Homo sapiens: one gene and its partners. The protein of the gene in region 3 purifies or fractionates together with the protein of the main gene of each other region. This does not show direct contact. Each region holds a gene or a part of one and is shown on either strand. Other genes may lie near its edges. The genes, in order: EFL1, MON2, ROCK1, KDM4D, NAA15, TAF4 and NUDT5.

Region 1 (4,403 bases), on a different chromosome or scaffold from region 3:
TCTGGCTTTCAAAGATCTTAGTTTGTTAGTAAATCAGAAGATGGTACAGCTTCTGCAAAACATACTAAACGAGTTTAAGATTTTTGGGTCTGCCAGGTGCAGTGGCTCACGCCTGTAATCCCAGAACTTTGGGAGGCCAAAGTGGGTGGATCACTTGAACTCAGGAGTTCGAGACCAACCTGGGCAACGTTGCGAAACTCAGTCTCTACAAAAAACACAAAAAAACTTAGCTGCACATGGTGGTGTGTGCCTGTAGTCACAACTACTTGAGAGGCTGAGGTGAGAGGATTGCTTGAGCCTGGTAGGCAGAGGTTGCAGTGAGCCGAGATTGTGCCACTGCACTCCAGCTGGGGCGACAGAATGAGACCCTGTCTCAAAAACAAGATTTTGAGTCTAGGAGACTTCACTGTTATTCAGGGCATTTCTCACTATCTTTACCTTTTCTTCCTTACCGAGAACATCACCAGTGGCCATGATGTCACATGTGTACATAGCTGCCATCAGGCGCTGAGGTTTCACTTGCAGTGCATAGCGACATGCTTCTTTCATGGTGGCAATTAGCTGTCCTGAGAAAGGTCCATAGCAGTCAGTGAGTGGAGATTCTCCTTTCTGTGATGTCCTCTTCTCAAAGGCCTCAGAGCAGCCATCTTGTAGCTCTTGGTTTTCATTTCCACCAGAACAGGTTTCATTTTCCTCCTGTCCCTCTTTTGCCAGATCACTTGCTCCTTGTTCCTCAAATTTACTTAGGTCCCATTTTTCCAGAACAAAACAGACACCCATGAGAGGCTCCTCACACATGGGGCCAGAGAGGGTTGCTAGTTGGAAGCCACTCACAATGCTATTGCCCAAATCTCGGTATCTACTGGCTTCTTTTGAAGCTTTGTCAGCTGGACCTGTCCATACTGAGTTCTGAAAATCTTCACTTTTATTGACTAGTATGTTGGGCCCACATTTTCTTGGGCCAAATGACCAGATTTGGTCAACAATGTTCCTCCATCTTCTCCCTGTTAGGTGTTGCTCCAGTTTTCCTTTGAATTCCCAAATTTTCTCTTGGGTCTTCTGATGAATCATGTGAGTATTTTCACCCTCATTCAAAGAGGATGTCAACTGCTCCATAGAACGAATCAAATCACTATTTTCTTCCAGAATCTGGGTGACTTCTTCTGGAAGGGGCATGGCTCGAACACTGAGCGTGGCAAGTTTATTGGGAGTTGTTATGGTGATTAGCCCGTCAGAGTCAACTTGGATTCCTTCAGGGATTTTGCTTTGATCTTCTTTCATTTGGTGTATGACTGCAACTTTTTGCTGTTTGCCTATTTCTTCATTGACCATGTCAACTTTTGGGGGTTTTGTGATTGTTTCTCTGAATGGAATAATAGGTTCAGATACACTGATATGAATCTTTGCAAACCTACAGACAAATTCAAGAGAAATAACAGAAGGTTAAAATCAAAATAGCATCAAAGCTCCTGTGTAGAAATTACTACACAGTGGAGATTCTGTAAAAACATAGGAACATAAAAATTATCTTACTATGAAAGATCTGCAATTTACATTATATAACATTCAAAAACTGCTTTCTTTCTGATTGAAAAGACTACTTCTAATGGGAATATACCTCCAGGGAAATCCTTGCATGTACTGGAATTTCACTTTTTTTTTTTTCATTTTCAAGATATATAAACCACCCATTTAGATAAGAATGTTTTGAGCAGAAAATAAATGTTTTAATATATGAAATATGAATGCTTTAAAACAGTATTTGCCCATCTAAGAGTGTGGAGAAGAAAAGCTCAATGATTAAAACTCTAAATAGACATAGAATCACAGAACCTCAGGATAGCTAGTCAAATCTTCACAATGTATTTGGCTTTGATAATGAGGCTTATAGCAAGGCTAGCATGATCCATGAGTTTGTCTAGAGCAGCACTTTCCAAAAGAACTTTCTGCAATGGTGGAAATGTTCTATATGTTTATTGTGATTGCTGAGCCCTTGAAATGTGGCTAGTACAGCTGAATAAATTTTTAATTTTATTTAAATTTAAATAGACACATATAGCTACTAAGCATTTGAAATGCGGCTAGTATGACTGAGGAACTAAATTTTTAATTGTATTTGATTTTAAACAGCTGCATGTGGGTAGAAGCTACTCTTCTGGACATCATAGGTCTTGAGCCCCAGTCTGCCACCAAGTTCAGAAAGCCCCTTTTCCCACATAATATCAAATTTGATATTGTTGTATATTGTATATTTACAATCTTTTTGTATATTCACAGGATATACAACAAGATGGACCCGACATTGTATGTTTTTAAAACTACTTTGATATTCAAACCTGACAAAGACAGTATATATACACAAAACTGCAGTTCAATCTTACCTAAGAATTCAGATATAAAATCTAAGATAAAATAACAAAAACTATGGATATGCAGGTGTGTGCATTAAAAAAAAACTTATTATGTATGAGGCACTGTGTTAAGTGTTTTACATGTAGTATTTCTTTAGTAGGCACTAGTACTATCTAATTTTGTAGAAGAGAAAACCAGATAAGAAAGATTAAGTAATTTCTCCAAATAGTCTGTAAGTGAAGAAGCTAGGATTCAAATTTAGGTCTGACTTCAGAATTCACACTCTCAGTCATTATGCTATACTGAAAAATGAAGTTACTCAGTACATTAAAGGAATAATTTACTACAACACTACGAAGTTTGTATTATAGGTTATATGAAAATTAATTTGTATTAGATCTGTTAATACCACATTAAAAATATCAAATAATCTATGTAGCCACTTTTAAATATGCTAAATTGGCATTCAATAAGATTCAATACCTATTCTTGATTTTAAGAAAAAAGCCACTTAAAAATCTTAGGAATAGGAAAATATTTCTAAAATTATCATTACATAGAGAAAAATATGCTCATATACTTAGAACACTCAAGAAAACCAACGGCAAAGCTTCTGAAACTACGAGAGAGAACACATCTACAACACTGCCCTCTTATTCCTGTAACATAGTCAAAAGAGCTATGAGCCACTTTAGTCCTTCTAATTCCTGAGGCTCCCAAGAAGTCTCCTGTAGTAATCATTTATATGATTAATTAAAACCACTCCAAGCTGTGGAAGGAAGTGTGTGATGGTTGCCACACTCACAAAGCACCTCAGGACCAAAGGTTCTTTAAGTCCTAGCAATGCAGAGCCTGTGATGACACTAAAAAAAGTGCGGTAGGCTCAGGCTACATCATGGCAATTTCCTGTGGCTTCCTGCTCTGATTATTACTACCTTGAGATCTGGATGCTAAGAATTCTGACAGTTTCTCTGGCCTGGAGACAATATAGTCTCCTTGTCTCCCATTCCTGGACATAATCCATTCCTGAAGATGTGTGTAGAAGTTGAAAAAGATTATATACTACCAAAAGGTAGGCTCTGTCCTATGAGAACTAAACAAATTCTATAACATTATACACATTCTTAATGTAAGCATAATTGTGAAATGTAATAGTCATATAGAACAGTGCACAAAACAAAAATCTACTGATCTATGATAACTTACCTCAAAGTGAACACCCATGTAAACTACATGGTATAGTCAAGAAACAGAACAGTCTTAGCCCTCAGAGGGCCCCAATGCCATTAAGTATGAAGGTAACTGCTATCCTGATTTTTATTGTAATAGCCTCCATTTTTTTTAAATCACCTAACCATGTAACCCCTTATACTCCACAGTTCAGTTTGGACTGCACTTCTTTTTGTTCTTTTTTAAAAACAGGGTCTTGCTCTGTCACCCAGCCTGAAGTGCAGTGGTGTGATTACAGTTCACTGCAGCCTCGAGCTCCTGGGCTCAAGCAACCCTCTTGCCTCAGCTTCCTGAGTATCTGGTATTACAGGCATGCACCACCTGCCCGATTAATTTATTTTTATTTTTTTAGAGATGAGGTCTTGCTATGTTACCCAACCTGGTGCACTATGTTTTGAACTTCATATAAATACAAACAAACACTTTTTGGGGGAAGTGAAGTGGCTTCTTCTGTTCAACATTATATTGTGAGATTCACCTATGTTTTATATAGCTGTAGTTTTGTTCACTGAGATCATTCTATAGAATTCCATTGTATGAATACGCCATTATTTATTTATTTATTTATCCATTTAAATGTTTGAGTTGTTTCCAACTTTTGGCTACTAAAATTTTGTTGCCATGAGGCCAGGTATGGTGGCTCACGTCTGTAATCCCAGCACTTTGGGAGGCCGAGGAGGTTGGATCACTTGAGGTCAAGAGTTTGAGAACAGCCTGGCCAAGATGGTGAAACACCATCTCTACTAAAAATATAAAAGTTAGCTGGGCGTGGTGGCGTGCACCTGTAGTCCCAGCTACTCAGGAGGCCGAGGCAGGAGAAT
Region 2 (3,478 bases), on a different chromosome or scaffold from region 3:
TCCTAAACATGTGACTCACTACTCGTAAAGTCTTTAAACAGAGTAAGTGATGTGGGGTGTCAATAATGTTTCAGACTTAACGGGGATGAGAAAGCAAACACAAAGTATATTCAAGAAAAAAATGAATCACTGGTCAGATCCAAAGGTAAATTATCAAAGTGGTTATGATTTTAAGTTATAAAGAAACACTAGTGTTGCTGGAACATAATTAAAAACCTGGAATCATGCTTAATGTTAGCTGTAAAACAAATAAACAATCTGTACAATCACAGTTATAACTATATAGCTTTCATGAAAAATCTATCCTAGACTACAAAGAAAATTTGGGTTTGAGGCCAATACAATTTCATGATTATAATACATAACTGATACATCTCAACAACATAAAAATTGTAAGGAGAAAGAGTAACAACAGTGGTATTACTTTCAAGAATTGTGTTGGGAACTAAAAAATAATTTCACAAAATTAGATAAATATATCCAGTCTGACATAAACACCATATGGTAGCTGCCTTAAGAGACAGGAGTTGTATGTTACGTGTTAAATTATGACACAGAGGTAGTAGTAAGAGATGGAAAGCAAATGAAATTTGCACAGTTGGGTCTGAAGCCTAATATTTTCTTTTTCTAGATAAAAATAAAATTGCAATATAGGTATGGAGTATTTTTCTCCATCTAGTAAACATCATAGAAGGAAGCAGTTGTTAATATATTGCAATGATTTTCCAAATAACGGCATGGTTTAGCAGATCTTCCCTGGCTGCACTGTTTATTGAATTTTAGTTTAAAATAAAACTTAGTGTAACTACATTCGCAGCAACTGAAAATGGTCTGAAAATTTAATTTTTTCATACTTGAGGGGATAGAATCAATACCATAGTACAATTAGGAAGGTTTCAATTGACCTCTGGGTGACCTCTGGGTGAACCAATCACACAGACACCAAATACACTCCAGAAAGACTCAGATATGAGAACTATAAGATTCCGGGTCTTCCATCAAAGACTGCTTTGCAACAGAAAAATGAAAATAGTTGAAATACATGGGCAATATGCTGCCTCAAATTATTCTTGTAAGTAGGCAGTGTCAATATAAATCAATATTAAGATGGGATAAATCTAAAAGTTTAAACGTCTGCCTCAAAAAAACAAATATCTCCCCCACCCCCCAAAATCATAAAAAACCAAAACCCTAATTAAAAATATTTTTTTGAACTAGAGATAGGATCTTGCTATGTTGTCTAGGCTAGTCTCAAACTCCTGGCCTCAAGTGATACTCCCACCTTGGCTTCCCAAAGTGCTGGGATTACAGGTGTGGGCCACCACGCCAGCCAAAACCCTCATTTAAACAGGTTTTAAATACTTTACTTTGAGAAAAGATATATAATCTCTCTACCCACATAACAGAAAAGACATGATTATTCCAAATTTAGGTGCTGAATCCATCATATTTATAGCAATCCCATTTTGTGAGCATCTTGGCTGCTGAATCCCGTGTATTCATAAAGACAGTAGGAGTTATAGTCACAATTTTTTTTTATTTTTAGTTTTTTATGGCACTTCCAGTTTTTGGAACATATTACTTTAACTTGTTCAGCTATTTCAAAATGGCAGGGGAACTTTACCTTGGCAAAAACGCAACAGTGGCCAAAGTGCAAAGTATTTCTACTTTCCACTTTGTAGTGGTAGAACCATGAGCAGTGGTTCTACCACTAACAGCTCCACTTCTTATGAACAAGGAATAGGCACAATTAGAGAAAGAGCTGAAAGAGAAGAGGCAGAGAATGAAAGAGGAATTAAAAGAGAAAAATCAGGGGAAAGTATAAGAAAGATGGTAACGTAAACATAAAATTTAACAAGGATAAAAACATAAAAGAGAGAAGGGGAGGGAAGAAAGTGATGTCCAAGAAAAAGGAAGAAAAATGGTCAAAGATCTCTCTTACAATATAGTAATAAATTTATCAAACAACTTGAATTACCCTGTCATTAAAATCAACTCCACACTCAAATTATGCATTTTTTCCTCTAAAGAATTAGTAACTCATTGATCATCATCTCTGTTTAGAAATAAGGAAACCGCTTTGAAAAGTCAACATGCCTAGAGTTAAATAAGAAGTAGCATCTCTGTCCATCATTGCCTCAGAATTAGTCGAGATGACCAAGAATATTCATATAGAACTTGCCACATGTTCTTTTAAATAGCCAACACTGTTAGAGCATTAGAAAGTATTGGATTTGTAAGACATTTAACTTCCTCTGAAATGGTCTGTATATAAATCAAGATACAAAGATATCATCTCTCTTTCTGAATCTATAAACACTTTTCATTCAAATGAAAGCACTATTCTACTTTCCAGAGATACAAAAACTTTAATTCAAGTGATCATGAAGTATTAAAGACTTTTCCCACTTTATATAAATTGGTAAAATACTATGTGGCATGAACTCCCATTCTTCTCATGAATGACAATTTTTTTAAAATAAAAATTCCCTCTAATAATGTAGATAAATACAACCCAGGAACACTAAGCATAGTAAAATGTGATGCTTTATACAAGATTAGCTTATCTGCCAAAATGCCAAACCTAAGTGGAAATCTAAGGAACATACCTGGCTGCTGGCAATGCTTTCAGAGATCATTTTTGTCTACATCTGTGGTAGTTTTCTCTGAAAAACTGTAATCCACAATATTCTGAGCCTGTACACTAACCCATTCCAAGGGTGGCACAGTTAGGGACTCCTGTAAGTGTTCTGCCTTGGCTAGACAGACTTCACCTACAGCAGTCTCTTGAAAACTTGGTTGCCCATCTGAATTATTCTGTATTTGGGGAGAAAATATTAGTCATTTTAAAATAACTACACTGCCCTTCATTGACACAAATGTAATAATGACCACCTCATTAATAAAGAATATACTTTTGAGTTGTTTTCTAACACTGTTCCATAACTTATGCTAATTCATCCTTAACTGTTTCTCAACTGATCCTTTGGCCCAATGGTTACCTGGGACTAGTGGTACCAAATTGTGACAATAAAACAAAATGCTCTTTAAAATTATACTGAGAAAGGACAAATAATCTAGTTGTTACTGGCCTGCTGTAGAAATAATTTAATTGAATATTATTCTCCAGAATAAAATATCTACACTAAATTGTTCATCTCTTTCTTCTGATGATACATACAAATTTAAGGAATATAGCAAGAGTTGAATCGATAACCATATAATGGAAAAAACAAGAAACAAGAAAGATGTTAGCTGTTAAGTGAATAAAATTAAAAATGAAAGCAAGTGAAAAGTGGTTCTAAGCTAGACTTTTTTATGCCTTTTGTTTGTTTTGGAACCTAAAAGGCTCCTAATAAATGTTACAAATGTATACAATAAAATTAACAAAACCTTAACACTAGTTATAAAGAAATACTAAAGACATTACAAAATGATGTATTTTTTTCTCCCTTGGCAGTGGTGGTAGCATAGGAAA
Region 3 (4,403 bases):
TTTTTCTTTAAATCATCTTCTGGCCTCTTGCTATAGCTTCATTTGGTGGGGACCTTTATTTACATGTGGAGGATACAAGGAAATATAAGTCATGACTCTTTCCCTGAGAGTCCAATCTATTTAATGGAAGACAAAACCTTGTCTCACATATATACACAGAAACAAAGCTAAACACTTCACAGATTGAGAAAATGTGATAAATTCCAGATGATTGTTTAGATAATGTATGTTCTTGGAAATTGAGAGAAAGAAGTCACTGTGAGTTGAGAGAGCCAAAGTATGTTTTATAATGGATGGATAGGATTTAGGTAGAGGGTACTCAAGAGGAGTGGAGGATAACGTGAATAGAGGGTGGAGACATGACTGGCTATGACATGTTTGGGGAAACAAGGAAGATAAGGTTGGAAGGAAATATTAGCGTTAGATTGTGGAGGATTTGATTGGTAGGCTAAGGATTTTGGATTGCCTTTACACTGTTGTGGCTATTAAATATTTATAAATAAGACCGTGCTAGGATGAATGAAGAAGATGAATCTGGTGTGTGGAAGATGGGTTAGCATGGGAAAAGATTGGAGAGACAGTGAGATTGGACAGTTTTTTAAAATTGTTATTATTGTAATAGTCCAGAAATGATTGAAGCCCAAAATTGGGGCATGAGAATGAGAAAAGAAGAATTAATGGAACTTTATTGGCAGGGAAAAGATGGGGAACCAAAGAGAGAGGCAATAGTCAGATGACTCTAAAGAGGTTGAGCCTGGATTATAGGGAGAATGGTAAAAATAGCAAAGTCAGGTTTGGAAATTGCTTGTGAAGAATAGGCCTACAGATAAATTCAATTTTAGATTCGTTGTGTTTGAGGGGATAGTGGAGCAATCATGAGAAAATGACCTGTAGACTGTTGGAGATACAGAACTGAGCTCATAATTACAGATAATGATTTAGAAGTCATTTGCACAAAGGTGCAAGTTGATATAATGGTAAAGGGAGAAACAATGGAGGGAAAAATGAGGGTGAAAGATGAAGGTTGAACAAAGAGGAAGAGTGGAGGAGGTAAGCCATCAAGGCCTCCAGAGTTAGGACAGCCAGGTATCATGGAGCCCAACACTTCTAAAACAACATTTTGTTAAAGAGAATAGTCAACAGACAGATTTGGTTGTTTTTTCCCCTTCAAATCTTATAATCTTGTCCTCTTTTTCTGTTTAGTTCCACAGCTGTTTATTGATAGCTGTTACTGAAATTTTATTACCCCGTCAATCTGAACTTGGTAAAGACTGAATTTTCCTTTTTTTTTTTCTGAGATGGAATCTCACTCTGTTGCCCAGGCTGGAGTGCAGTGGCGCGATCTTGGCTCACTGCAACCTCCGACTCCTGGGTTCGAGTGATTCTCCTGCCTCAGCCCCCACGAGTAGTTGGGATTACACGCGTGCACTACCACGCCTGGCTAATTTTTGTAGTTTTAGTAGAGATGGGGTTTCACCATGTTGGCCAGGCTGGTCTTGTACTCCTTACCCCAAGGAATCCGCCTGCCTTGGCCTCCCGAAGTACTGGGATTACAGGCGTGAGCCACCGTGCCTGGCCCAAGACTGAATTTCCTTTAGAGACAAAAAATCCTTTTTCTGGGTTTGTAGTATCTAGCATGAATTTTCTTCGCATGATGTTTTATGTTTAACATTGAGCATTCGTTCGTTCATTCATTCATTGTGTCATTCAGGGTGACCTATCAGGTGACTTCAGCTTTTTCAGTGAGTCTGTTCTTGTTCTTCCCTATCTGGACTTTGGACCTCTCATGTATTATAGGAACAAAACTCCTTTTACATTGGTTGCCTTTTTCTGTTATTTTGACTTTTGTTGATTTGTGTAACTGATACTTACTTATTAGTGTGTATTATGTGCCACGTGCAGTCCTTTAGTTCTAGAGTTGTTTTTGTAATCCCAAAAATAAGGTTTTCAAATTGTTTCTTCTCTACCTCCTTTACTAGATTCATGCTTAGAAATGGAAACTTCCAAATCTTTTGGTTTCAGAAATTTGCTGGTGTATGTCCTTTTAAACTACCTTACCTACTAAACAGCTTTTTTGTTGAGACACTAATGATGAATAGCATCCGTAATCTGAAATTTGAAGTGCTCAAAATCTGAAACTTTTTGAGTGCTGACATGACGCCATAAGTGGAAAATCCACCTGACCTTGTGAGATGGGTTGCAGTCAAAATGCAGTCAGAACTTTGTTTCATGCACAAAATTATTAAAATATTGCAAAAAATAACCTTCAGGTTGTTGTGTATAAGGTATGTATGAGACGTAAATGAATTTCTTATTTAGACTTGGTCCCCATCCCCAGGGTATCTTATGTATATGCAAATATTTTAAAATCTGAAAAAGTCTGCAGTCTGAAACACTTCTAGTTCCAAGCATTTTAAACAAGGGATACTCAACCTGCAGTAGTTTAGAATAATGTAGCTGGAAGAACTCTGATAAGTGGCTATCCAATCTTTTCTCGAACACCTGTAATTTTTTTCAAGAACTAAGTAAGTTCAATCTTCATATCATGTATAAATGCTAAAATAGTCTGCAAATACTAAGATACATTATGATAACCATTCACTTGTTTCCTAGAGCATTCAAATTAGTCAACTTTGGTTTTCTGTAGGTCAGATTCTTTCCAGTGTCCTAATGGTTGTCTTTCTTACTGTCCATGTTACAGTTTATAAGGATTATCGGGAGCTATTTCTCTTTTCCGGACTTCCTTATCTTCTAATTATTTTGTCTAGGGCCTGTAATAATTTCTCAGTGATTTTGAGTACCTTTGAAAACAGAATAAGGGATGGAGTTTAGTTAAGTCTATTTAATCTTTGCAGAGGAAAAAATGCTTATGATTTGTAAATTAAATAGGAAAAACAAGGCCGGGTGCAGTGGCTCGCTCCTGGAGGGCTGAGGCCAGAGAATTGCTTGAGCCTAGGACGGGGAGGTTGCAGTGAGCCGAGATTGTGCCACTGCACTCCAGCCTGGACGACACAGTGAGAACTTGTCTCAAAAAAAAGGAAAAACAAAAATGGTTGGGAGGGTTATAGATACATTTGTTTTGAAGTTTGACATACTTTTCATGAAAATATCTTGCTTGTAGCATATTTATTGGCACATCGCTTCATGATGCCTGTTAAGAACATGACCTTTCCACTTCTCTTCTGGCTGGTGGAGGTGTAGCAACGGGTGAGCGGAGGAGACAGAAGGGAACCAGTATTAGTCAAATAGTGCCTGTTGAGTTCTAACACTGTGCTGTTTGTCACTACTATTTCTTATTAGGGAGTTTTTCAGAATGTGGAAGATAAATGTAAATGAAATTTCTGGTGTTAGTCTTTGAGTTTTTCTTCCTTTAAATTATCTTCCTGGGCTCTCTTGACCTAGTGCTTTCCCATCTTTTCATTCTTCTTTTTTTCTTTTCCTCAATCTTTGGCCTATCATACTTATCTTTGTCTTCACTCTCTTGAAGAATTCATCCATTCTTACAGCTTCAATTATTATTATCTCTATGTACATGATACCCAAATCTTTATTTTTAGTCTTTTGTTTCAAACCTTAAATATCTGACTGCCTTGTAAGCATTTCTACTTGGATGTCATGTTAGTCTCAAATCCCTCATATTCCAAAACAAGCTTCCTCCCATAAACTTATCTGTTTTGTCATTAATTCCACTATTGTCCCTGTCGCTAAACTGAAATTTTTGTTGTGAACTTTTTTGACAGTGTTAGTCCACACATTGGGTTATTACAGCAGATTTTGGGTAGCATTTTCGAATCTGGATTATTGCTGTCTAATCCCCTGTATGCCTTGCCAGTTGAATTGATCTGTTTTGGGGGTATATTACTCTTGGAATGAAAAGACCTGAGGTCATTAAATCTTTGAGCCTTAAAGTTGTATCTCTGCCAGTGTTCCTAGTTTGTGAGTTAATAGGTGTTATTAGTATCAATTGCATATCTGGTTAGTTTGGACCAGACTTTTTTGGATGTTAGTATGTTGCAGGAACTTCTTTTAAAAAAACAAGTTACTCTCCTAATTCATTTTTATTCATTCAGCAAATCTTTGTATAGGGCCTAAACTTGGATTGAAATCTAGGCTCTGACATGTATTTGCTGAAATATTTTAGGGAGTTATTTTAACCTCTCAATGCTGTTTCATCTTCAGAAAAATAAGAGGGGATAAAAGTACTAGATTGTTGTAAGAATTGAATAATATAGTCAAAGCAACTATCATAGCATTTGGTATTTAGTAAGCATTTGTAATATTGTCATATTTATAATATTTCTGTTATATACTAGTCAGTGTGCTTAGTCTAGAAGTTGATATTTATTGTCGTCTCTAAGTACAGAGTAATTTATCTGGCACCTCAAGCCGCTCATAAATTCATA
Region 4 (4,403 bases), on a different chromosome or scaffold from region 3:
CTGCCACCTCAACAGCTTGTATTAAGCACCAAATAAATGTAGCACTCATGGAGTATAGAAGATAGAATTCTCACCAAGGTCTGAGGTTGGTATAGAAGGAACCCTGATGTAGGAGAGCCTCAGATTGGTCTGGAAGGCAGAGTTTATAACTTAGAAAAGAGAAGGAAGAGATAAGTGAAGCAAGGGAAGAAAAGCATAGAGTCAAGGACAGTGATTAGGACCATTTGACTGGAACTACGTTTGTATAAGAAAATTGAGAGAGAAATTTGGGAAACAAGAAGCAATAAAGATGTGGTTTAAACACAATCATTTACTTTGTTCCCTTTCCAAACCTCACTAAAGTGACAGTAACAGGATTTTTGTTTTAAGAAATGAACTTACAAAGACAGAAAATGGTAAAGGAAAACAGGTAGTGGCCAGTTTTGGAAATTGGAAAGCAGATGGACAAGTGTAAACTGATTTATCAAACACTGGAAAGTTGAGTCCTAAATTGGCAATGAGGAAAGCCAAGAAGCAACACAATTGTCTCTACAGAACCCAAAAGGCTTAGGATGTCATGGCATTAGGTACCTCTGGGAGTGACAGTTAAAATGAGGCTAAGGAGAATTTGTTGAAATCTGTCTAACAAAACAGAGCCCTAGGTTCCCACCCTCCTCTAAGCAGCTGGATAAACTGCCCCTCTTACACCCTGGCAGAAGATTGAGCTTCATTTTTTCTAGAGTGAGGAAAAAGGTGGCCTCTGGACTGGGAATTTCCAGATACTTTTGAGAGTGTGGTTGTCATAGGGAAAATAAGTTGATAAAGTGAACTGTACAAGTAGGGTACTTTTAGAAATGTGTAGCCTCTTTTGCCATTTGGGAGGGAAGTCAGACCTGTACTCTCCAGGAGAAAGACTGAAGCATCTTTTGCATTGAATATGACCAGCTCTAGAAATATCAGTGTTAGGAGTTCACCTAGGAAACAGCCCAGTTAGAATATCATTCAGGGAAGCATAATCACTAAAACAATTCATGTACCCTGAGCTTCTAATCTGCCTTTTTTGTGCTGTACTTTTTTATATAAGGCAATTACTAAAGGCTACCAGACATGTGAGGAAAGCCTTAAATATGAAAGAGACCAAAGCAAAAAAAAGAAAGAAAGATAAAAAGGACAAAAGTCAATTTCAAAGAAACAGACCATGCAGGGAGAAAAACAAAACAGAATTTCAAAAACCATTGAGATTTTAGTATTTCTAGAGAGGTAAAAGAAGAAATGCTCCCATGAAGCAAGAATAAGACAATAAGAAAGAAAAGCAATGTACATACATGCAGGAACTCTCAGGTAACAGAAATGATCACTGGAAATTAAAAATTTGATTGGAGAAATGAAAAAGACAAAGAGAAAGGAAGTTTAGAGATAAAGATGAAGAAATTTTTTAGAAGATAAAATATAGTGATAAAGGAATAGAAAACTTGGGGGAGGGGAAAACAGGTGAACATTAGAGGTCTAATCCATGAAAGGTCCAATATCTAAATAAGAGGAGTTAATACACAGACGAAAAGGAGTAGAGGAAATCAAAGAAAGAACTAAAAAAAAAAAAATCCTAAAATTAAAGAACTTCATTTTTGAGATGGATAAAATGTAAGAATATGGGTTCAAAAAAAGCTTCTATAAACGTTGATAGAGAGACAAACAACCTAAAATAAACAACACACATAATGAACAGGTCATCTGTAAAGAACCAAGAATCATATTCATATCCTCTTCATACTCATGCTCACACCAATACCCACACAATAATTTCAAAAGTTAATAACCCCCCCTCTCCGAAATACAGAATTAAAGGTATAATTAAAATCAGAATTAAAGGTACAATTAGCATATACAAAGGAAAAAACTATAGGATAATATTTATCTCCATCTAGATGAAGAAGTATTATAACTTTCTAAACATGAAAAACATGAAAAATATTACAAAGGAAAATAAAATATTGTAAGTCAAAAACATTTTTGTTAAATAAATTTAAAGAAATACAAGTTAAATGACAAACTGGCAAAAAAAACTATTAACATATCTAACAAAAGGGTTTAATATGTAAAATATTCATGTAATTAATATGTAAAATGTTTATATAAGTAGGTAAGAAAACACCCTGGGACCCTATTAGAAAAAAACAGGCAAAGGATATGAACCAATACATAAGATGAAATCCAAAAGACTAATATTTATGAAAAAAATCAAAATCAACCTTAGTCGTTGTCCAAGAAATGTAAATTAAAACTTGATCTAACTTTTTAACTTACCAAAATTAGTAAAATATATATTTTTTCAAAGTAAATTTGATCAGTGTTCAGGATGTAAAATATATTTTTTCTTTAAAGTTTTGGCAACGTGTATTAAAGATCTTAAAATATTTAAATTCTATAATGTAATTTCATTTATAAGTATCTAATCTAAGAAATTTCATTCATTCAACCAATATTTTACGGGATGTACTGTTTTAGATACTGAAATACGGACTACATATTTAAGTAAAAGTGATTAGTAATAATCGTGCAAAAGTAAAAACAAAATAGCTGTCCAATAATACAGGATAAGTTTAATCACTTGTCTACACAGAGTAGAATTTTTTCAGTTATCAAATATATTATGCTTATAAATTATTTTAAATAAGTAGTAGATTTTCTAACTGAGAAAAAAATTTGATTAAACATAGCATTTAGATATTGACTGTCAGAAGAAACAAGGGCTGATGTCTGAGGCATTTTGTTAACAATCCCCCACTTGAAGTAATAGATTTGAAATACATATGCAGCAAGAAAGACAAACAGTTTGGGCAAGGGCTGCAGTGAAAGGGACTGTTAAACTTACTCAGCTTCACTTCTTAACTTGCCCAGTTTAACACCCCCCAACACACACACACAGCAAGAAGCTTAGGAGGCATTATTTCTAAAAGACCCGAAGAAAGACTTTCTAATTTCCAGAAATCCATTAATTTTAAGGGATCAAGTATTATTTTTTAATTATTCTGATAAGAAAATACTTTTCTTTGGTTGTCAGAACTGTCAAGTTTTCTTAGATGACGAATTCTGCCTTATTGTGATTACTGTGGGTAAGGGTAAAATGGAAGAGTATCAAGTGACAGTGTAATTATTCTCTACTGGTAGCTATGGTTCCAGTTGAAAGAAGCAAGTAGTCTCACAACAAAAGCAACCATTGAAGACTCATAGAGAAGTGACACATTTGGCTAGAACACTGAAGGATCTCTCCATCATTGTACCTGGCAAATTCTAAGCAGTTTTTTTTTTTTTTTTGGAGCGCAGTCACACTTACAAATTGTAGTATTTTCTTTTGATATGCAACATCTGAAGACTATATGTATAAGGAGACATTGCATCATTCTTCCTAGAATCCTTAGAAATGTAGAAAAGAAGTAACGCAGTTTATAAAACAGATACAAAGTGCTCAACCCAAAGCTTATTTTACTTGTATATTCAAAAAAATATATAGGTTTGTGTGATTTTCATAGTCAGCATTTTGTTACTTCTTGAGGGAAAGACCCTCAGCATGATATTTAAGTTTCTGATATTTAATTATCCTTCTAAATTGTCTCACTTTTCTCTTTTCTTTTCTTTAGAGCAAGTTTTCTAATAGAAAGAATGAAATATTTTATTTTATATTCCAAAAATATAAAGAATTTATAATAAAATCATTGTAGAATAATTTTTAAGATTAAAAAATTGGGATGAGATTGGGAGACTATCATATGATACAGGTAATCTTGTCACTTGTACATCCTCAGTGTCTCGCTTGAGTAGTGACAGCTTTAAGTAGGAGAGGAAGACAAGCTGGATTCTTGGGTTCTTCTATAAGGAAGATAAAGAGAACACACCCTGGGGTGTCTAGATGTCCTTGGGGCCTCATGGAAGACTATCATTGGATCCTCTGACAGGCACTGACCATATGTCTGGGAAAAGGGAGATGTAATAGTCAGTGGTGACTACGATAACACATTATTGCCCTTGATAGAAATAAAAGACATATAAAGGAGTAACTTAGTTTCAGGAGAAAGATCATCAATTTGTATTAAACCAGTTGACTTTCAGGGGCTCACTGGGCCATCTAAGTTGGAGAAGGAGAGCAGAAGCTTAGGAGAGAGTCAGTTATTGGAGAAAGTTATGACAATAAATAACATGTTTAAAGGGAAACAGCATGGTACTAACAGAAACCCTGAATATAAATAGGAAATTTTAAGAGAGAAAGAAAGTTAAGAGGGATAAAAATTGAACTTTGAGATGTCTGCATGTGTGTGGTAGAAGAGGAGGTAGAACCCAGAAGAAAGAAAAGAACCAGTGTTAAAAGAAGTATCAGTGCCCTGGAGGTTGTAGGAGTTTTAGGAGGAAGGGGGAGGTGTTCTGTGAAC
Region 5 (4,403 bases), on a different chromosome or scaffold from region 3:
AGACTGTAATAATCACGTAGTTTAAGGAATAATACAGTGCACTTTACTCAGTTTTCCCAACACTAATACCTTGCAAAACCATGGTTCATTATTATAACATTGATACAATCCACCAGTCTTATTCAGATTTCCCCACTTTACTTGTACACGCGTGTGAGTGCTCGCGCACGCGGGTGCAGTCATCCCTTGGTATCTGTCGGGGGTTGATTTCAGGATCCCGCGAGATTCCAAAATTTGCAGGTGTTTGAGTCCCTTATGTAAAGTGGTGTAGTATTTGCATATAACCTATGCGAATGTATACTTTAAATATCTCTAGATTACTTATAATACCTAATGCAATATTACTGTTATATAGTTATACTGTATTTTAAAAATTTGTATTTTTTATTGTATTTTTAAAAATAGTTTTTACCTATGGATGCAGACACCAAGGATAATGAGAGCTGACTGTATTTACTTCTATGCAGCGTTATCCCATGTATAGATTGCACCACTACAATTAGGCTACAGAACAAGTTCCTTCAGTCCAAAGTACCCCCCTCTGTTGCCCTTTTAGAACCACATCCATTATCTCTCCCACCGCCCTCCCATCCCCTCTCGCTGCAGGCTCCAGCAACCGGTACATGTCCTCTATTTGTATAATTTTGCCATTCTTTTGGGTTTAGAGATAGAGTCTTCCTCTGTTGCCCAGGCTGGAGTGTAGTGGCTATTTATAGGCTCTATCAAAAGGGCACTGTAACCTCAAACTACTGGACTCAAGCAGTCCTCCCGCTTCAGCCTCCGGAGTAGGGGGGATCACTACAGGGCTACTACATCCAGCTAATAGTTTATTCCTTTTTATTGCCAAGTAGTATTCCATGATATGGATGTACCACAGTGTGTTTAACCATCCATATAATAGCAATTTTTGATTAAACATCTTAATTTTTTTGTGGTAGTGTTAGTGGGGCAAAAACCTGTAAGTTTATTGCCAAAATCACAGTGCTGAAGATCTATTGATAAGTTATATGTGAGAGAAATGTGGAAGTCACTAAATGAAGGAAGAGTAAAGGAGCTAAAATGTCCTTATTGTTCTCATACATTAGGAATGAAGAAAGTGTTACTGACCAAAAGGATAGTATTGATTTTTTGAAATTGCTTCTGTTTCTTGAGATTTGATAGTAAGTTAGTGCTTTTAAGATTTTTTTTTTTTTTGCCCGGTCTGATAAAGGAAATGTTGGACATAATGTGATGTGTGTGCTCTATGTAATCAAGTGTTGCTAGGTTGGTAACTTGTTGTTTTTTTTTTTTTTTGAGACGGAGTTTCGCTTTTGTTGCCCAGGCTGGAGGGCAATGGCATGATCTCGGCTCACCGAAACCTCTGTCTCCCGGGTTCAAGCAGTTCTGCTTCAGCGTCCTGAGTAGCTGGGATTACAGGCGTGTGCCACCACACCTAGCTAATTTTGTATTGTTAGTAGAGATGGGGTTTCTCCATGTTGTTCAGGCTCGTCTCAAACTCCCAGCCTCAAGTGATCCACCCGCCTTGGCCTCCCAGAATGCTGGGATTACAGGCCTGAGCCACTGCTCCTGGCTGCTTGGTAACTTGTTAAATCATTCCTGCAGCATTCAACTTTTGAGCTGCTACTTTGTTAGTTGTACTGTACTTGTTATGATAAACTTAAGTAGGAAATACAGTTAGTTTGTATTTCAAAATAAACATTTTTTTCCTTAAATTTTTAATGGAAACCTGCTTTACACATAAGTTTGCAAAAATTTTAGAGTTTCTGCAGTGGATTTGCCTGGCTTGATCTAGTCTAGTTGATCTCTAAAATTCAGTTTTGTTGTATATTTTTCTCTTTTTTCCAATATTACTCTTCTGTTTTCTGACTAAAGCATTGTCCTAAGTTAGTCAAAATGCTTGCATAATGTTTCTTGCTGATAATTTGTCTAGAAAAAGGATGGGATGAATTTAATGTGACATATACTATGTAAGAGTTTATTTTATTTTGTTTGTTTTTTGAGACAGTTTTGCTCTGTCACCCAGGCTGGAGTGCAGTGGTGTGATCTTGGCTCACTGCAACCTCCACCTCCTGGGTTCATGCCTCAGCCTCCCAAGTAGCTGGGATTACAGGCGCCTGCCACCACACTCGGCTAATTTTTTTTTTTGTATTTTTAGTAGAGATGGTGTTTCACCATGTTGGCCAGGCTGGTCTTGAACTAGTGACCTCAAGTGTTCTGCCTGCCTCGGCCTCCCAAAGTGCTGGGATTACAGGCATGAGCCACTGCACCTGGTCCTATGTAAGAGTTTAAGGAAGACTTGTGTTTGCCAGAAGCTGGTTTTTTTTTTTTTGGTCTGGTTTTTTTTTTGTTTTGTTTTGTTTTGTTTTGTTTGTAATTACAAACTTTTAACTTATTTGGAAAATTAAGTCATTAGAAAATTGTGGCCTTTGCCTACTGTTGATGCTATTTGTTTATCTAAAAGTTTGAGGAGGTTACCAGATATTTATACCACTTTGTTAGGATCTAGGTTAAGGGTAGGAAAAATGAGGTTGCCAGAGTAGAACAAAATCCACACCTTAGATTTTAACCTGCTTGGAAAAGATGGACATATCCTAATGCCTTTCAATCAAGTATTGGTAGGTTGGTTGCTGTTGCTGCTGCTTCCTTCTCTCTTTTTTGCTCTTCAAATGTTAATGTCAGTTATAAGAAAAATCTAAGTTGGGAATAGTTAAAATATTGTACATCAATAAATGTAGTTTTGGACTTTAGCCTGAATGATTTAAATTGTTAGTTGTAAGTGTTAAAGGACAGAATTTTTCTTTCCTAGAAAAGTGGTGAGAGAAGTTAAAATAGCATGATGATTATGTTTGTGATTTGTCACTATTTGCCAGGTAAAATGAGAAATCTACCATTTGCCAGGCTCTGCTCTAGGTGCTTTAGAATAGCACTGCACAGTAGAATTTTCTGTGATGATGGAAATATTTGTTATCTGCTCTAATATGATAGCCATTGGCCATGTGTAGGTTTGTTTTTTGTTGTTTTTGTTAAGACAGGGTCTAACTCTATCACACAGTCTGGAGTGCAGTGGTTTGATCACGGCTCACTGCAGCCTCCACCTCCCGGGCTCAAGCTATCCTCCTAGCTCAGTCTCCCGAGTAGCTGCGACTACAGGCGTGCCACCACGCCTGGCTAATTTTTGTATTTTTGGTAGAGACGGGGTTTCGCCATGTTGGCCAGGCTAGTCTTGAACTCCTGGGATCAAGCAGTCCTCCTGCCTTGGCTTCCCAAAGTGCTGGGATTACAGATGTGAGCTACTGTGCCTGGCCTGGCCACATGTAATTATTGCACACTTGAAATATGGCTAGTGCAACTGAGGAAATGAATTTTTAATTAATCTTAATTTAAATTCAAATAGTCACATGTGGTGAATGGTTACCGTTTTGGACACAGCATGCTTTATTTAGAGTCCTTTCTTAATTCTCAAAACTTTTCAAGGTGGGGACATTTTTATTAAGCAAACAGACTGAGATTAAGGTCAACAGCTAGTGTTAGTTACAGTCTGGAATAAAACTTTTTTTCTTTTCAGGGCACTTAACATCACACCTGCCTAGTGTTTAACTATTTAGGGGAGGGGTGTAGGAGGAGGGTGAGGGAATTGTTAGGCAAAGGAGTAGTAATACTTATTAGGTGGCTGTATACATTGTATAATAAGTAAATTATTATTATTATTATTATTTTTTTGAGACGGAGTCTCACTGTTGCCCAGGCTGGAGTGTAGTGGTGCAATCTCGGCTCATTGCATGCTCTGCCTCCCGGGTTCACGCCATTCTCCTGCCTCAGCCTCCTGAGTAGCTGAGACTACAGGCACCTGCCACCACACCCAGCTAATTTTTTGTATTTTTAGTAGAGACGGGGTTTCACCGTGTTAGCCAGGATGGTCTCGATCTCCTGACCTCCTGATCTGCCCGCCTTGGCCTCCCTAAGTGCTAGGATTACAGGCATGAACCACCGCGCCCGGCCCATTGTATAATAGGTAAATTATTTTATGTGATTTATTTTCTTTGGGAAAGTTAATGTTTCTGCTAGTTAATGATACTTAGTTTAGCTTCAGTTGCTGATGAAATTTAGATTAGGAATTGTTAGCAAGTAGGTGTCCATATGCACATGAAAGTTTAACTGATTAATTTCTTTGTGACAGAATTCCAGTTTTGCAACTAAGAGTGGACAGTAACTTTGAAATTGGTTTTAATATACTTTTGCTTGTACTTCATATATTTAGAATATAACAAAAAATCAAAAAATGGAAACAAAGTTTGGTCTGTTCTGAAATCCCATTCAGCTCTTAGTAGTTAATCATAAGTTTATTTATTTTTTTGAGATGGAGTCTCACTTTTGTCGTCCAGGCTGGAGTACAGTGGCGTGAT
Region 6 (4,403 bases), on a different chromosome or scaffold from region 3:
ATCCCTCCCACCCTGCAAATGCTGCGCCCGAGAGCTCTATCGATGCTCACGTCCACAGAACGAAGTCTCGTGTTGGCTGTCTCAGGGGCACACTTGTGGGAGAGTGTCCCTTTTATACACTTTGATGCTGTCAGATTTCTTAAAGTAACATTTACCTTTTTTGCTGCAACACAGAACTACTTTTACAGCAAGGGCTAAGTGTGTTTATTTCAGTGCTGCCCTGAAGGCACTGCCTCCCGGCTGTGGCAGCAGGCACCACCTCACCCAGTGTGCCCTTGGAAGAGTGTTCATATGTGACTGCTGGTGAGGAAGGCACGTTTTACTTGGAAGAGCTGCTTCATGAGAATAGGGCTGCGGCACCTCAGGGTCTGCCAGTTCAGCCCATGGCCCAGAGAGAGAGGCAGGTGCCTTCCAAAAGGTAAACCCGCCAGGCATAGAGGCTCATGCCTGTAATCCCAGCATTTAAGGAGGCCAAGTCAGGAGGATCACTTGAGGCAAGGAGTTTAGGACCAGCCTGGGCTACATCGCGAGTCCCTGTCCCTTTTATTAAAAATACAAAAATTAGTTGGGCACGGTGGTGTGCGCCTGTAATCCCAGCTACTTGGGAGGCGAAGGCACAAGAATCGCTTGAACCCACGAGGCGGAGGCTGCAGTGAGCCAAGACTGCGCCACTGAACTCCAGCCTGGGCAACAGAGTGAGACCCTACCTCAAAAAGAAATCTTTCCAAAATCTAGTCCTATAAGAAATCCAAAACACGTTCGTAAGGAACATGGAGGCACTTGGGACCCACCGCCCTCTGCCTCGGTGTGGGGAGGAGGCTCCCAGCCAGCAGAGAGTGGGGGCCAACAACATAAAGACGCTCTCCTCGGCAAACAGCCTGTTACCTTGTAAGAAAAGTTCTTCTGCTGAGCTGTTTCTGATATTTTCTCTACAAGATTCTGTAGCCTTTGTTGCGTGGCATGTGATACATAACTTACTACATCTGGATGTAATTCCGTTATACCATGTTTTTTACCTAAAGGTCAGGCAAGAAAAACAGTATTTTAAAATCATTAAGCACAGTTCTTTCTTTACGGCTAATCTCTGATCCAGCAGTTACTGCTTTTATACAACCCAAGGGGAGCCCAGAAAGGCTGGTGGGGTGGAAGGCAGTGGTACCCATATTTTACCCAAGAACCACCACCAGCAACCATGTGGAAATCACAAACTCAGACAAAACACATGACCAGGTGTCAGGTGTGCTCACCTGAAGCTCCCATGCCCCAGCAGCGCAGCTGTTTAATAAGAACTCAGTCATTAAACACCAACGTACCTATTTCTAATATTCTTCTCTGCAAAGGCGCTTGGAGGAGGAAGGTTTCATCTTTACAGGACCGCGTTAGCGTGCCCACCAATTCAGAGTTCGTGGCTAATATTCTTGCACTTTCTTCTGACAAGTTTACTCCAGCCATCGATGCAACATCATTAATGTCATCATCGTCCCTTGAGGAAAGAAGGGAAGATCACTTTAACTGTACAAGGAATTCATCGGGAGGTGGGCTGGGGTGGTAAGGGCAGGAAACCCCACGTGGAAGGCAGGGCCGTGAGGAGGCCAGGCCTCTGTCCTCCCCGCACCTGCACCTGCTGCATCTGCCACAGCAGAGAGGGTGCCTCGCTGCTTTCCTGGAAAGCTCGATTGTTCTGCGGAAGGAGAGCTGTGAGTTGGCGCCGGGTTAACATCTACACACAGATGCGCAGGGGACTCAAGTCCAGAGAAAGCAAAGCCGGGAGCAGCGCGGGGACTTGTGGGGGTCTGATCTATGCAAAGCTTTTTAAAGCCAGAGGCAGCATTAAATTCTTTTTAAAGGCTCAGAAGTTGGAAGAAGAGTACGCACAATTTTTTCCTGAATCACCTGAAAGTTGCTAACCTGACTTTCCTCCACCCGGAACATTCTGCACGTGTTTCCTACAGACAAGGGCATCCCCTCCAGAAGCAGGATGCCATTGAGACCGGGCCATGATGAATGGCCCCTCCCCAGGCCCTCCCCCGTAGGACCCGGTCCCAGCAGCGCCTCTCCCTGCAGGACAGTCTGCATCCCAATCCCAGCTGCCACGTCTTGTCCGGCTCCTCAAGCTGGAAGGTTCCTCAGCCTCTCCTGACTCCTGGGCTGCCCCTGACACCTGGAAGGCACAGGCCAGCTGTGTGCAGGACGTCCTCTTCCAGGCTGACTTCGGCCCCCTCGTGAGGAGATGTGAGCTAAGAGTCCTGCCGGGAATTCCACATGCACGCAGCCTCCACTTGCCGCCTCCAGCAGTGGGCTTTGAACGTGAGGCCGGGGGCCTGCCTGGCGTCTCCTGGGGTCGTTGTGTCTCGGGGAAGAGCTCTACAGCAGTTCTCATGCCCAGTCCTCCTATGGGCTCCAGGTGCTCACTCAGGGTCTTGGCATCCCTGGTGGTCACGGGCTGTGGCTGGGCTGCACAGCTTAGGGCTCCAGCTGAAGGACCCGGCCATGGGAGGGAGGCTGCTCTGCTGACATCCACGTCCACGTCATGCCCATGTCCACTGCTCTCTGACACAGGACGGTCTCCGCTCATCTTGTATTTCCTTATCCCAGTCCCGCAATCAGCCTTTTCTCTCAGGAGTCCTTGTCATTTTAGTGGAAAACGGTTTTTAGAAGACAACATCTGAACACTAGGTGTGCTCAGTGTTACTGGGGCGTTACTGTTCCCAGGACCCTGCGGTGAACAAAGCTAGAAACTTACGGCAAGACCCATGGTTATCCATGCCTGCCGACACACTGAAACCCAGGGGTTTGCGTCAGCATTCCAATCCTGAGCCAGCCCACAGGGGTCACTCTCCTTTATCCCTTCTGCCAGGCCGCTGACTCCTTGACAGCAAAATACCAAGGCTTCCTGCAGCCTTGATTAATTCTTTCACCCGTGTATGTCCCTAAGTGCCCTCCCTTCTCACTGAAGTATCAGCGTCACGCTGGGCCCAGGCATGCTGGCCACCTCTCCCTGCTTGGGCTGGGACTCTGGCTCAGGCCACAGCCACTCCCCAGGCCTGCTATGCCCTGCCTGATGCCTTTAGGGATGAAGTGTCTGGGAAAGGGAAAATTCACAGTAAGACTTCCTGAAATACACACAACTCCACCGCCCCTTGATCACAACAGAGATCACTCCAAGACTCTCCCACTGCTCAGGTCCCATAAGCACCTCCCTGACTGAGGTGATGCTCAGACCACCTGCTTTCCAGGAGGCCCAGGCAAAGCACAGCAGTTATTTTTCTAGAAACAGGGCCTCACTCTGTCACCGACGCTGGCGTACACTGCTAAAACCATAGCTCACTGTAACACTGAACTCCTGGGCAGAAGTGATCCTCCTGCCTCAGCCTCCCAAGTAGCTAGGCCCACAGGCACACACCACCAAGCCTGGCTAATTTTTTATTTTTTGTTGTTGTTGAGTAAGGTTTTACTATGTTGTGCAGGCTGGTCTCAAACTCCCGGGCTCAAGCGATTCTCCCACTTCAGCCTCCTGTAGTGCTGGCACTGTAAGCGTGAGCCACTACGCCTGGAGCAGTACAGCATTTCTGAGGGTTCTGAAGTTGAATACATGGAAAGTGAAGCATTCTATACTAGGAATGCAATGAACTCAAAATACGATGTTATACTAAAAAATGAATTTCCTATTAGTTCATATAAAAATAATCAGTTGATTCGCTTTCTGGCTATGTGTATGAAGCAAAACCTCTTTGAGCCAACTGTATGGGAAAACACACTTGTGTGAACGTGAGGTCAAAGTGAGCGTGAAGCAGGAGCCTTGGAGCCCCGGCCGCCAGGGCCACGTGGGAAAGACCCGTGGGCGGGAATGGAGCAGCACGGACTCTGGACTCTTCTCCGCTCTGGCCACGCTTCTCCAACGTACACAGGCCCATTCCTTACCGAAACGAACCTCCCCCAGGCTCCTTGAGTTTATTTTTCTGTGCAGCAGCTGCTTGTGCCGAGACAGCAGAAAGGGCTTTGGTTCCAGGTAACACGGCGGGTTTCACCACAGGGACTACAAAACAAACACACAGTGGAAACCACACAAGGCTTTTATTAGATCAACTATGTGCTTTGGTGCTTTACAGGCTCAAGGGCACAGCTACCACTCTCCTAATTAGCTACAAGAAAGTTTCCAAAAACTTCATATTAATAACTCTAAATTACAGTACAAAGTGTAAGCTGTACCTCTCGAGCATTTATTTTCCTGTATTTCATCAAGGTTTTTAAAGTGCAGGAATGATTACAGATAAAGAAGCTAACCATGGAAAATACATAAAATTAAAAATCATACTGACAGTGGTGATGGTTACACAACACAGTAAATGAAATCAGTGCCACTGAACTAGATACTTAAAATGGCCAATTTTATGTAAATGTAC
Region 7 (4,403 bases), on a different chromosome or scaffold from region 3:
TAGACCTTCAGTGTTCAAACTGAACTGAGTTAAAACGATTTATGAGAATTAAAACAGCTTGTGACTTTAAAGACTAAGGAAAATCATAAATGAAATTGTAGAACACTCGCTGGCGCGGTGACTCACGCCTGTAATTCCAGCACTTTGGCAGGCCGAGGCGGGTGGATCACGAGGTCAGGAGATCGAGACCATCCTAACACGGTGAAACCCCGTCTCTCCTAAAAATACAAAAAATTAATCAGGCATGGTGGCAGGTACCTGTAATCCCAGCTACTTGGGAGGCTGAGGCAGGAGAATGGCATGAACCCAGGAGGCGGAGCTTGCAGTGAGCGGAGATCGCGCCACTGCACTCCAGCCTGGGCGACAAGGCAAGACTCTGTCTCAAAAAAAAAAAAAAAAATTGTAGAACACTCAACATCGTGTACATGTATCTTTTTCATACCATACACATATTGGCAATATGCAAATTACCTTAAATTCTAACTAATGAAGTGGATAAAATTTATATCAAAGTTTGCTTTTAAATCTTGAAATAGCGTTGAGTCAGTGAAGGCAAACTCCGTTGCAGTGGCGGAGACGCTGGCTTACAAAGCACGGAATTTAAAGCTCATTTCTCGTTCTTTCTGCAGCGTGTTGCTGGCAGTGACTGGCCCCCGAATGGCACTATTTGGCTTCTGCTTTTGAAATGGTGCTAAAAACAACATTCCTTTTCTGTTTCTAAAAATTTCTGAGGTACTTTTACAGTCCTTCTGAAATGTTTGGGAATCTCATAGTTAAGAATATGCTCTTGAAATAGCTCATTTTTGTCATTCACGGAATCAGTGGATTGCTGCACGATACTGTTTCCCTTTGAGGCTGATTGCATTCCAAAGAAATACTCTCTTTTAGCGGCCAGGCACGGTGGTTCACGCCTGTAATCCCAGCACTTTGGGAGGCTGAGGCTGGTGGATCACCTGAGGTCAGGAGTTCGAGGCCAGCCTGCCCAACATGGCAAAACCCCATCTCTACTAAAAATGTAAAAATTAGCCGGGTGCAGTGGTAGGAGCCTGTAATCCCAGGTACTCGGGAGGCTGAGGCAGGAGAATCGCTTGAATCCGTGAGGCAGAGGTTGCAGTGAGCCGAGATCATGCCTTTGCACTCCAGCCGGGCAACAAGAGCGAAACTCCATCTCAAAAAAAAAAGTTTACCTAATAAATTATCATCTATGGTACTTTCAAAGGAATAAGTGCCTGTTTTCTTAGTAGGGCTGCAGGTTTCAATATGCTAATGTCTGTCTCTAAATATTTAAACTTCTACGTGGTTTACTTCCTTATTGCTTTCAGGTCTCCATTCAGAAGTCACCAAATTAAACAGGCCTTGCCTGATCACTCCGTGTAGATTACTCTTCCCATCTTCCCCACACTTCTCATCCTTTTTAATCTTTCTTCATGAAACGCTGAGTCACTTGACATAAATTTTGTGTTCTTCCTCACTGTTTTTCCTTTCTCCTCACTGGAAAATGAGGTCCGGGGGAGTGAGGGTCTTTGTCCCTCTCACCACCACTTTTTTTTTTTTTTTTTTTTTTTTAGATGGAGTCTTGCTCTGTCGCCAGGCTGCAGTGCAGTGGCACGATCTCAGCTCACTGCAACCTCCATCTCCTGGGTTCAAGCCATTCTCCTCCCTCAGCCTTCCCTGTAGTTGGGGCTACAGGCGCACCCCACCACGTCCAGCTAATTTTTGTATTTTTAGTAGAGACAGGGTTTCACCATGTTGGCCAGGATGGTCTCCATCTCTTGACCTCGTGATCCACCCGCCCTGGCCTCCCAAAGTGCTGGGATTGTAGGCGTGAGGCGTGAGCCACCGCACCCGGCCTCACCGCCACTTTCCTAAAACATCATCTCACCTTTCACAGGTTGGCCACAAGGGTTACCTATGATAGTCAATCAGATATTTGATTTGTAAACGCACTTTATGAATATTCATACAGTTGGTTTTGTTATTGATTGTATTTTAGAATAGGGAAGCTTGCTGTCTTGGGGACAAATTGAAGATCAGATGGGTAGTATGATCACTTTGGGTCCCAGAAGAAACAAAGAGCAGACTCACTTTTTCCTTTAGGACAGTTGGGAAGAGAGTTGATGCTGGGTGGGCTGTATTTTCTTTGAAGCCGAAGTTAGGTGGGGTAGGTTAGAGAACCGTGGAACGTAAGAGTGCAGTGGCGTGATCTCGGCTCTCTGCAACCCCCAACTCCTGGGTCCAAATGACCCTCCTGCCTCAGCTTCCTGAGTAGCTGGGACTACAGGTGCCCACCACCACACCCGGCTAATTTTTTTATTTTTTATTTTTGTGGAGACAGGGTTTTGCCATGTTACCCAGGCTGGTCTCAGACTCTTGGTCCCCCAAAGGGCTAGGATTCCAGGTGTGAGCCACTGTGCCTGGTCCAAGTAACAGTTCTTAAAAGAAACAACAGAGAAAACACAGGGGAGGAAATCATCAGTGAAGTCGTTCAAGAAAAAAATTCCCTGTAAAGAAGCATAGTAAGAAGTTTCCAGATTGAAAGGACCCACTTGACTTCCCAGTACAATAACATCGACATGAAAGTGACTAACTACAAGCTTCCAGAGGAGGAAGACAGGTCACATGGCAAAAAGATCAAGAATAAGAATAGCTTTGGACTTCTCAACAGCAGCACCAGAAGTAAGACAACTAAGCAATGCCTTACAGTTTCATAGACAACTGGCTTTGGGTCTATAATTCTATATACAGCTGAATTAACAACCATGTGTGTGGGTAAGAAAAAAAGACTTTGACCTTCGGACAGGCAAGGTCCGAAAATGAAGGAATAAAGAAAGAGGAAATAATAATATACAATAAATGGGATAAGGGCCTGCTCTTTTCATAACAGAACTTGTAGTACTACTCGATCCTTTCTCTGCAACTATGACTTTGATACATGCTGAAACTTAAAAGTAAGTGGGGAGGTGGGTCCAGTGGCTCATGCCTGTAATCCCAGCACTTTGGGACACCGAGGCGGGAGGAGGATCGCTTGAGCCCGGGAGTCTGAGACCAGCCTGTGAAACATAGTGAGACCCCACCTCTACCAAAAGTTTAAAACATTAGTTGGCTGTGGTAGCATGCACCTGTAATCCCAGCTACTCAGGAGGCTGAGATGCGAGGAGCACGTGAGCTTGGGAGGTAGAGGCTACAGTGAGCCATGATTTCGCCACTGCACTCCAACCTGTGCAACAGAGTGAGATCTTACATCTCAAAAAATAAGTAAGTTTAGGTGTAACAGATGGATAAAAGACTGAGAGGTGGGCATGGAGAGTGGTAAATCTTTCTTCTGTCTTCCCTTGGAAAGAGTTTAAGATTCGGAGTCAGAAAAATCAGGCTGGGCGCGGTAGCTCACGCCTGTAATCCCAGCACTTTGGGAGGCCAAGGAGGGCAGATCACTTGATGTCAGGAGGTTGAGAGCAGCATGGCCAACGTGGTGAAACCCTGTCTCTACTAAAAATATAAAAATTACCAGGCCTGGTGATGTATGCCTGTAATCCCAGCTACTCGGGAGGCTGAGGCACGAGGATCACTTGAACCCAGGAGGCGGAGGTTGCAGTGAGCTGAGATCGCGCCATTGCACTCCACCCTGGGCAACAGAGTGAGACTCTCTCAAAAAAAACAAAAAAGAAAAAAAAAAAAAGAAAAATCTGATGAAGAAGGGTGGCCTCTAAGTGCCTAGAACAGGCATGGCAGGAGCTTGGCTGTTGTGGCTGAGGGTGACTAGGACTGCTGTCACTTCCTTCCTGGCTAATCCCCGGGCCTCCCTGTTCACATTTCCACCTGCGGCAGTTCCCTCACATACTGAGACAGGCAGCGTTGATGGTAGATGAATTTTTTGCCGTTTAAGTACTTTGACTAGTGTCCTGTGGACGAATGTTTAATTCAGAAAAATAATTTTAGCCTGAACAAATCTCATTATCTTGCAGGGTGAACTTCTCACCTGAGGGCTGTAAAGACTCGTTTGAAAATGGAGAGCCAAGAACCAACGGAATCTTCTCAGAATGGCAAACAGTATATCATTTCAGAGGAGGTATAACTTGTTTTTCACTTTCCCTTCCCTCCCCCACATAAATCTGAGTTTAGCAGAAATATATAGACTGTTGTTACAATGGTGGTCTTTCATTCTTGAAGACAGTTGTAAAGATTTTTCCTACTCCCTTTTTTGGGCTCGGGCACATTTTGCTCTTGTGTGGGAGGAGTAGTGTGTCTCTCTGTGTATTAGTGAAATTGAGACTCTAGGAGATTTGGGCTCTTAACAGAAAAATTCTTAATCCTTCCTGTATTTCCCTAGATAGAAGAAGAAAGAATATATGCATTTGCGGACTCAGATATTTCATATGTAGTTGTCACAACTTGGCTGTTGATGG

The links.
Region 1: the proteins of ROCK1 (region 3) and EFL1 fractionate together in Homo sapiens (co-fractionation; one large-scale study listed by BioGRID). This does not show direct contact.
Region 2: the proteins of ROCK1 (region 3) and MON2 fractionate together in Homo sapiens (co-fractionation; one large-scale study listed by BioGRID). This does not show direct contact.
Region 4: the proteins of ROCK1 (region 3) and KDM4D purify together in Homo sapiens (affinity purification with mass spectrometry; one large-scale study listed by BioGRID and IntAct). This does not show direct contact.
Region 5: the proteins of ROCK1 (region 3) and NAA15 fractionate together in Homo sapiens (co-fractionation; one large-scale study listed by BioGRID). This does not show direct contact.
Region 6: the proteins of ROCK1 (region 3) and TAF4 purify together in Homo sapiens (affinity purification with mass spectrometry, with the first as the bait; one large-scale study listed by BioGRID). This does not show direct contact.
Region 7: the proteins of ROCK1 (region 3) and NUDT5 fractionate together in Homo sapiens (co-fractionation; one large-scale study listed by BioGRID). This does not show direct contact.

Annotation. Positions count from the first base shown.
Region 1 is NC_000015.10:82,151,013-82,155,415, forward strand, and holds part of EFL1 (elongation factor-like GTPase 1), read right to left. Parts: intron 1,412-4,403; coding exon 453-1,411; exon of another isoform or gene 439-452; intron 1-438. UniProt on the Homo sapiens protein: GTPase involved in the biogenesis of the 60S ribosomal subunit and translational activation of ribosomes.
Region 2 is NC_000012.12:62,595,626-62,599,103, reverse strand, and holds part of MON2 (protein MON2 homolog), read right to left. Parts: 3' UTR 1-3,478. UniProt on the Homo sapiens protein: Plays a role in regulating membrane trafficking of cargo proteins. Together with ATP9A and DOP1B, regulates SNX3 retromer-mediated endosomal sorting of WLS away from lysosomal degradation.
Region 3 is NC_000018.10:21,104,947-21,109,349, reverse strand, and holds part of ROCK1 (rho-associated protein kinase 1), read left to right. Parts: intron 1-4,403. UniProt on the Homo sapiens protein: Protein kinase which is a key regulator of the actin cytoskeleton and cell polarity.
Region 4 is NC_000011.10:94,990,236-94,994,638, forward strand, and holds part of KDM4D (lysine-specific demethylase 4D), read left to right. Parts: intron 1-4,403. UniProt on the Homo sapiens protein: Histone demethylase that specifically demethylates 'Lys-9' of histone H3, thereby playing a central role in histone code. Does not demethylate histone H3 'Lys-4', H3 'Lys-27', H3 'Lys-36' nor H4 'Lys-20'.
Region 5 is NC_000004.12:139,304,262-139,308,664, forward strand, and holds part of NAA15 (N-alpha-acetyltransferase 15, NatA auxiliary subunit), read left to right. Parts: intron 1-4,403. UniProt on the Homo sapiens protein: Auxillary subunit of N-terminal acetyltransferase complexes which display alpha (N-terminal) acetyltransferase (NAT) activity. The NAT activity may be important for vascular, hematopoietic and neuronal growth and development.
Region 6 is NC_000020.11:61,999,239-62,003,641, forward strand, and holds part of TAF4 (transcription initiation factor TFIID subunit 4), read right to left. Parts: intron 4,037-4,403; coding exon 3,922-4,036; intron 3,391-3,921; exon of another isoform or gene 2,576-3,390; coding exon of another isoform or gene 1,909-2,575; intron 1,682-1,908; coding exon of another isoform or gene 1,509-1,681; exon of another isoform or gene 1,490-1,508; intron 1,484-1,489; coding exon 1,314-1,483; intron 1,017-1,313; coding exon 886-1,016; intron 1-885. Other genes in the region: uncharacterized protein LOC105372704, read right to left, coding at 1,509-1,681, 1,909-2,575. UniProt on the Homo sapiens protein: The TFIID basal transcription factor complex plays a major role in the initiation of RNA polymerase II (Pol II)-dependent transcription.
Region 7 is NC_000010.11:12,185,892-12,190,294, reverse strand, and holds part of NUDT5 (ADP-sugar pyrophosphatase), read left to right. Parts: intron 1-3,962; 5' UTR 3,963-4,003; coding exon 4,004-4,066; intron 4,067-4,403. UniProt on the Homo sapiens protein: Enzyme that can either act as an ADP-sugar pyrophosphatase in absence of diphosphate or catalyze the synthesis of ATP in presence of diphosphate.